2 separate regions of the Homo sapiens genome follow, and region 1 is linked to region 2. Evidence: fine-mapped expression QTL. A gene starts in region 2. The other region holds a variant in brackets. All regions are shown on one strand. Distances are from middle to middle.

Region 1 (2,921 bases), 99 kb before region 2:
GTCCAGACTTCCAGATCCAGACACTTAAGTGATGCATCAATATAACATAGCTTAATTTGTGTCAAAGTCTTTCCTAAGTTTAGGCGGTACTCTTTCTTCCATTACCATGATTCCTCCTGCTGCTTTCCGTAACAAAAAACAAAAACAAACCCAGCTATCTACAGGGATAAAAATAAAAAAGAAAATTCACTGTATATGAAAAAGTCTTTCTAAAAATTAAACAGGTTTCCTTTTTAATACATTAGCTTGAGTGGGGTGTGTGTGTCCCTGTGTGGTGTGTGTGTTTGTGTGTGTGTGCTATGTATATTGGGTGTTATCCAGAATACAGTGATATTTTCACTTCTCCTTTAGATGAATATAAGTGGTTATAACCATAGCAAAGCATCCCTACTGTCTACATTTTATATAGTTTAGCTTTTATTTCTAGCTTCAGAGTATTCAGAATTGAGAGGATTTAGCACGGATTTGAAGAAACCCTTCTCATTCTTTTTTTCCCACCTTACCTCAAACCCTATTTATACTCCTTCACTTTCATTTGTTTCACATTATTCTTTCTAACCAGTGACTCAAATATTGTTGGTTCTTATTTTATTGAGGTACTGGAGCCTGCTTAAAGAAGTTAGGGTTCAATTCAAAAAGCATTTATGTAACACCAACTCTGCAAAGCCCCACGCTAGATACTGTGGAATTTGGCACAGTAAGTAAGGTCTTCCCATGCCTTAACTGGCAGTCTGTGAAGGCTGCGTGCTAGCACCTTTACCACGTGAGCAGTGGAGGCAGCGCTTAATTCCAGGATAGAAAATGAGGCCAGGCTTCACAGGGAACACAGCATTTAATGGAACCCCAGAAAATAAGTAAGCAAATTTCAGAGAAGGGCTGCCCTCAGACCACCCATTTCTCATTTAGTTGCTTTTCCAACTACTATTGTACACAAAGTATTCTTAGATTTCAAAGGGGGCACAAATACACTCCAAGTACACAAAATCCCCAGCACTGAATTTGCCCTAGTGGGAAAATAATGTGATTTTGAAGTTCTTGTGTACAATGTGATTTTGAAGTTCTTGTGGTCTGCT[T/C]GTACTCTTCCCTACAAAGAGGGAACACGGCCGTCTGTGTTGGGGGTTTACATGCAAGGCCTAAAAAGTCAGTTCCCTTTTCAATGAGATATATGGTTTTAAAATGTCAAATGGCGGTTTATGACATCAGTAGGAAGAAGAGAAGGGGAAGTTAATTCTTACCAATGTGGTCACAATAGAAATGGCTTCATATCCCTCTGCCTAGTAGAGAGACTGGAACATATCTGCTTAATACAATCAATAAATCAATGTTGAATTAATAGCTGATACCTATCGATTATGAGCTGAAAATGAAGGTCCTTTACATTATTAATATTCATAATAAAGATCAAAAGTAAATAAATAATAAGACTGAAAGTTCAGTTATTCAGTATTAAAATAGATTTTGTTTTGTTAACATCAAAATAGATAGGAGTCAGGCTGTAGACTAATGGCAAATACAATGGTTTTTAGATGTGGGTAGTAAACCTGGATTGGTAGAGCCAGAGCAGTAGTTGCTGCAAAAACTCATACAGTACGACCCTCATCTAGGACATCTGATGGTTATACACATGGACACTTTAAATTTTAAACTTTCATTTCAGAAAGCATTTATAATTAATATATACTTATTTATCTTTCAAAGGGAAAATGCAGTGTGATACCAAATAATAGAACTATTTTTACTAACACACCAAAATTTATAGATGGAAATGAGTATCATCTATCAAAGCAATTACTTTAAGTAGCCACATATTTATTCCACTTCTGAAACTGTTTTTGTGACTCCATCATTGCAACTCATTTTATACTCATACATCAAATAGTGGTAACATGTTCTATTTAAAATATAACGTATTTTATAGTAAACTGTTTTTAATTAAAAAAAAAAACTCCCACTTGATCCCATCTCTTTGTACTAAGAATGACTTCAGCTACTTTTCAAAACCTCCTTAGGTAATTTAGATTTGCACATATTCAAAATAAAACTATTTTAAATGATGATTTGAAAGCAGAGCTTTGGGCACTACTTAACTGCATTAACACACTCTCAAAGTGACTGCCCTTAGTCCTCTTGTTTGTTACACGGTCTATATGGAGCAATGGGAAGTTTGGTCGCCTAAAAGTGAACACTTCTGAAGTTGAATCCTGGACTTTCAACTTCTAGAAAGACATCTAACTTCTTTGTTGATTAGCATTCTACATTTTTAAAAAGTAGGATTTATATTATCTATTTTACTACCCTGGACTCAAATGAACTAATGTTATAAATGTGCTTGGTTAACAACTACACAAATGGAATTTATTTAGATATCAGTCATATAAATTTATAGGCACTATGACAGAGTATCATTATGAATATCAATTATTCTTTTAAGCAACAGTGTTGACGTGGCTCTAGAGACAGCCTCTGATGTTGGACTGTAGGCAGAAAGAGATTAACGCAGCTGGGCGTGATGGCTCATGCCTGTAATCTCAGGGTTTTGGGAGGCTGAGGCAGGCAGATCACCTGAGGTCAGGAGTTTGAGACCAGCCTGGCCAATATCTACTGGCCAGTATCTACTAAAAATACAAAAATTAGCCAGGCGTGGTGACGCATGCCTGTAATCCCAGTTACTCAGGAGGCTGAGGCAGTAGAATCACTTGAACCCGGGAGGAGGAGGTTGCAGTGACCTGAGATCACGCTACTACACTCCAGCCTGGGCAACAGAGCAAGACTCCATGTCAAGAAAAAGAGATTAACTCTGAGACATTTCCAGAAAGTTGATATTGTTTAAAAAGGCATTCAAAAAATCATTTACAATCTGCTTCCCAGCACACCCTCAAACCTGTCTACGTTTCTGCAACATCTGAACCATACAAGTCACC
Region 2 (2,921 bases):
AACAAAAATGAAATTTGACACATTTTAAAATATTCTGCATAATGTGGTCCATTAGTCTTTGATATTTTATTGAAGAAAGTTGTGGTAAAGATAAGATTGAGAAGTCCATTACTAAAAACGTTTTCCAAAAGATTTCCTTTCCAAAGCTATACTTTCCTTCAAAATCGAATCTTTTGAACTTCCAAAACACCTTTTTAGCAAATGATCTCTTGAGATAGTGTCACTAGGGGGGCATTGACCAGCACCCGGCACACTAACAGGAAACAAGGTTTATAAACTGCTGATTTAACCAAACTTGATCCATAACCTACCCCATTTTCCGTGAGCATTATGGTCATCAGTTCTCATTTTAATAATCCAAATGCTGAGCTTTCTAAATATAAAATCCCAGGAGGATTTTTTTTGAATGTGTGGCAATGTCAGTAAGAAGGAAGGCATCTTGTGAAGAGATAAAGTGGACAGATGAATTTTGAAATCTATCTGTACACGAAGAGAAATGCAATACTCGCAATATTTCTAATTCAATACCTTTCAGTATGCAAACCACTGATAAAAGAGTTTTTTTAAAATTTTTTTTCTAGATGAACGTTTAAGTGGTCATTCGCCTCAAATCTCCACTTTCCAGTCCTGCACAGACTCCAGCTAATAACACTACCACCTGCAGGGTGTTTTGTTGTTTGTTTGTTGTTTGTTTTAGTGCTTCCCACATGCCTAGTTCACGCATGCACTTTTCTAAAGGACCCGAGTTCCGTTGGCTGCGTTCCCCGGGGAGCTCTACGAAGACCGGTCTGACCTGGCCCTCTCAGCTCCCTTGGAAGGGACCTGCTGCAAGGCAGGGTCATTTGGCTCCGAAATGCACCTTCAGGAATTTCCCCAAGGGGCTAGCATCAGCACCAACCGGAACACAGGCCCTCCGCTCCCTCAGCCCGCGACCACCTGGCACTCGTGTCCCTCCCTGCGGCCTGCCGGGGTCCTAGGAGCAGGGAAAATCCAATAGCTACGGGCGACCCTTGAGTTTACTCGGTCTACCCACCTCCATATTTTATCCAAAGAATGGACGGAGGCCAGTGAGGTGAGGTGACTTGGCTAAAGCCACACAGCCGGACGCTGGCCGAGCGGGTTAGTACTCGGGTCTCTGCTAACCCCGCGGCCGCTCGTGACTACCCGGGGCTTGGTAAGCACCGCCCAGGGGAAAGACTTGGCATTGCTGGCGCGAGAGCCGAAGGACTCAGCGACTTGTGACAGGAGGTCATCAATGGCCACCTGCAGGGCAGAGTGGGCAAAAGGCAGGTGACAGACCTCCCACGTCACGCCTGTTGGCGTGAGCGTCCTTTTCACTCTCTAAGTACCCTGACTTGTGAGTTAAACGATGGATCGGGTCGCCCAAGCGAAAGAGGCATCTGCTTCGAACTCCCCCCATATTTGTGCCAGCAGGGCAGAAAATAGGAAAGTTGCACTTACCACATCTTCCCTGGGTCAGTCTCCCCCGACTTCCCAAGTCCCACTCCTCCCTCCTCGCATAGGGACACCCACTCACGCGCCCGCTCCACCAGGTACGTACCAGCCGCGCGCAGCTGCCTGCCCTGCCGGTGCCCTGGCGCTCGCGCTCGCCCAGCGCTCTGCGGCCCGGAGCTGCGACTCGGGCTCTAGCTCGCTGCCGCCTCTACAGTCCACCGGGATGCGGCCGCGTCTGAGCTACTGGGCTGGGGCGCAGCCAGGCGGTGGCAGCTACTCGGGGGCGGAGGGAGCGGCCGCCGCGTCCCGCCCCCAGGCTACGAGCGCGGCTCCCCAGGCGGTGTCCCGCTCTCCGTGCAAACCGGGCCACCGCATCACTCCCCGGGGCACGTGCCACGGTAGCTTTTTTCTGCTGGCAGCCTGGGGCGAGCTCTTTTATCCTACTTGTGCGTTAACCACCAACTAATTATCGGTGATCGTCACACAACCCGCGTCCTCCCCGCCCGCCACTCCCAGTTCCCTTGGGCGATGATGAGGTTCTGCTAAGATTTCTGTGACGTGACTGCGGGAATTTCAATTCCCTTCCTGCTTTCCGACGTCGCATCGTGTTTTCTGTCCCTCCGGTTGTACGCGCCCTGAGCAGGGTTTGTGCTCCAGGTGTCATTAAGGTTGCCCTTTGATCTAATGTTGGCTGTTTGGAGAAGGTAGGAAGGTACACAGGCTTATCTACGCCCCGAATCTGGGTCTTCGAGTTTGTTAACAGATTATTTTAACAGATTAGGAAGCAATATGCAATGGAAACAACTTTTTGTGCAATAAAAGCAGAAAATAATGTATATCAAGTTTCACTTTCAGGTTCTCACTAAGAAAAATAAAGTCGTTACTACTAAGGTCTCACTGTGCTTTTTAAAAGCCATATTACATGGACGACGATACTGCTGATAAAATTAATTTATCTGCTTCCTGAGAAAGTGGTTTCTCACTGAAGTCTTAAAATCTCCTCTGGTCTCCTGAAACTCTTAATTAGTACTCAAAGTCTTCTCTTATCTCTAGTCTTTACTAATTTGCTCATTCATACTATGCTCTGACTTGCCACCCAAAGCCTATGACACCTGCCAATGACCACTTCCAAATTCCCTTTTTAGGCAAAAGCCTAAATATGGAAATACGAAAATATAATCAGACTAATATTTTATTCAGTGTGTGCTAATGGTAGTACAATCAAGTTCTTTAAATTATTCAATATTCATACCTCCACAATATAGTAATAATTTTCTCTATTTTCAGATAGTAAACTGAGGTTCAGCAAGGTTAGATACTTTGAACAAGGCTAAATAGCTGAGAAGATTCCAAATCAGTTTTGAACTTAGGTCTTTCTGCCTTCAGGATTGATTGACTTCCTTAAATTATACTCTGCTAATAAAGCTGTGATTTTTCTGAATTGTGATGTAGGCACATTTTGTTTT

What was found. PIP is the estimated chance that this variant, and not a neighbour inherited with it, causes the effect.
Region 1: its variant is fine-mapped to the expression of PKIB in lung (TOPMed, PIP above 0.99).

Annotation. Positions count from the first base shown.
Region 1 is chr6:122,708,510-122,711,430 of GRCh38, reverse strand. The region is part of intron 3 of PKIB (cAMP-dependent protein kinase inhibitor beta); the gene reads right to left. Among named protein-coding and RNA genes, the nearest start is that of FABP7, 70 kb to the left of the region's middle. The variant T/C (reference allele first, on the strand shown) is at 1,074.
Region 2 is chr6:122,609,176-122,612,096 of GRCh38, reverse strand. PKIB (cAMP-dependent protein kinase inhibitor beta) reads right to left here and starts at 1,692. Exons shown (of 5, transcript NM_181795.3): 1 at 1,562-1,692. RefSeq lists an enhancer at 400-1,045 and a silencer at 1,662-1,841.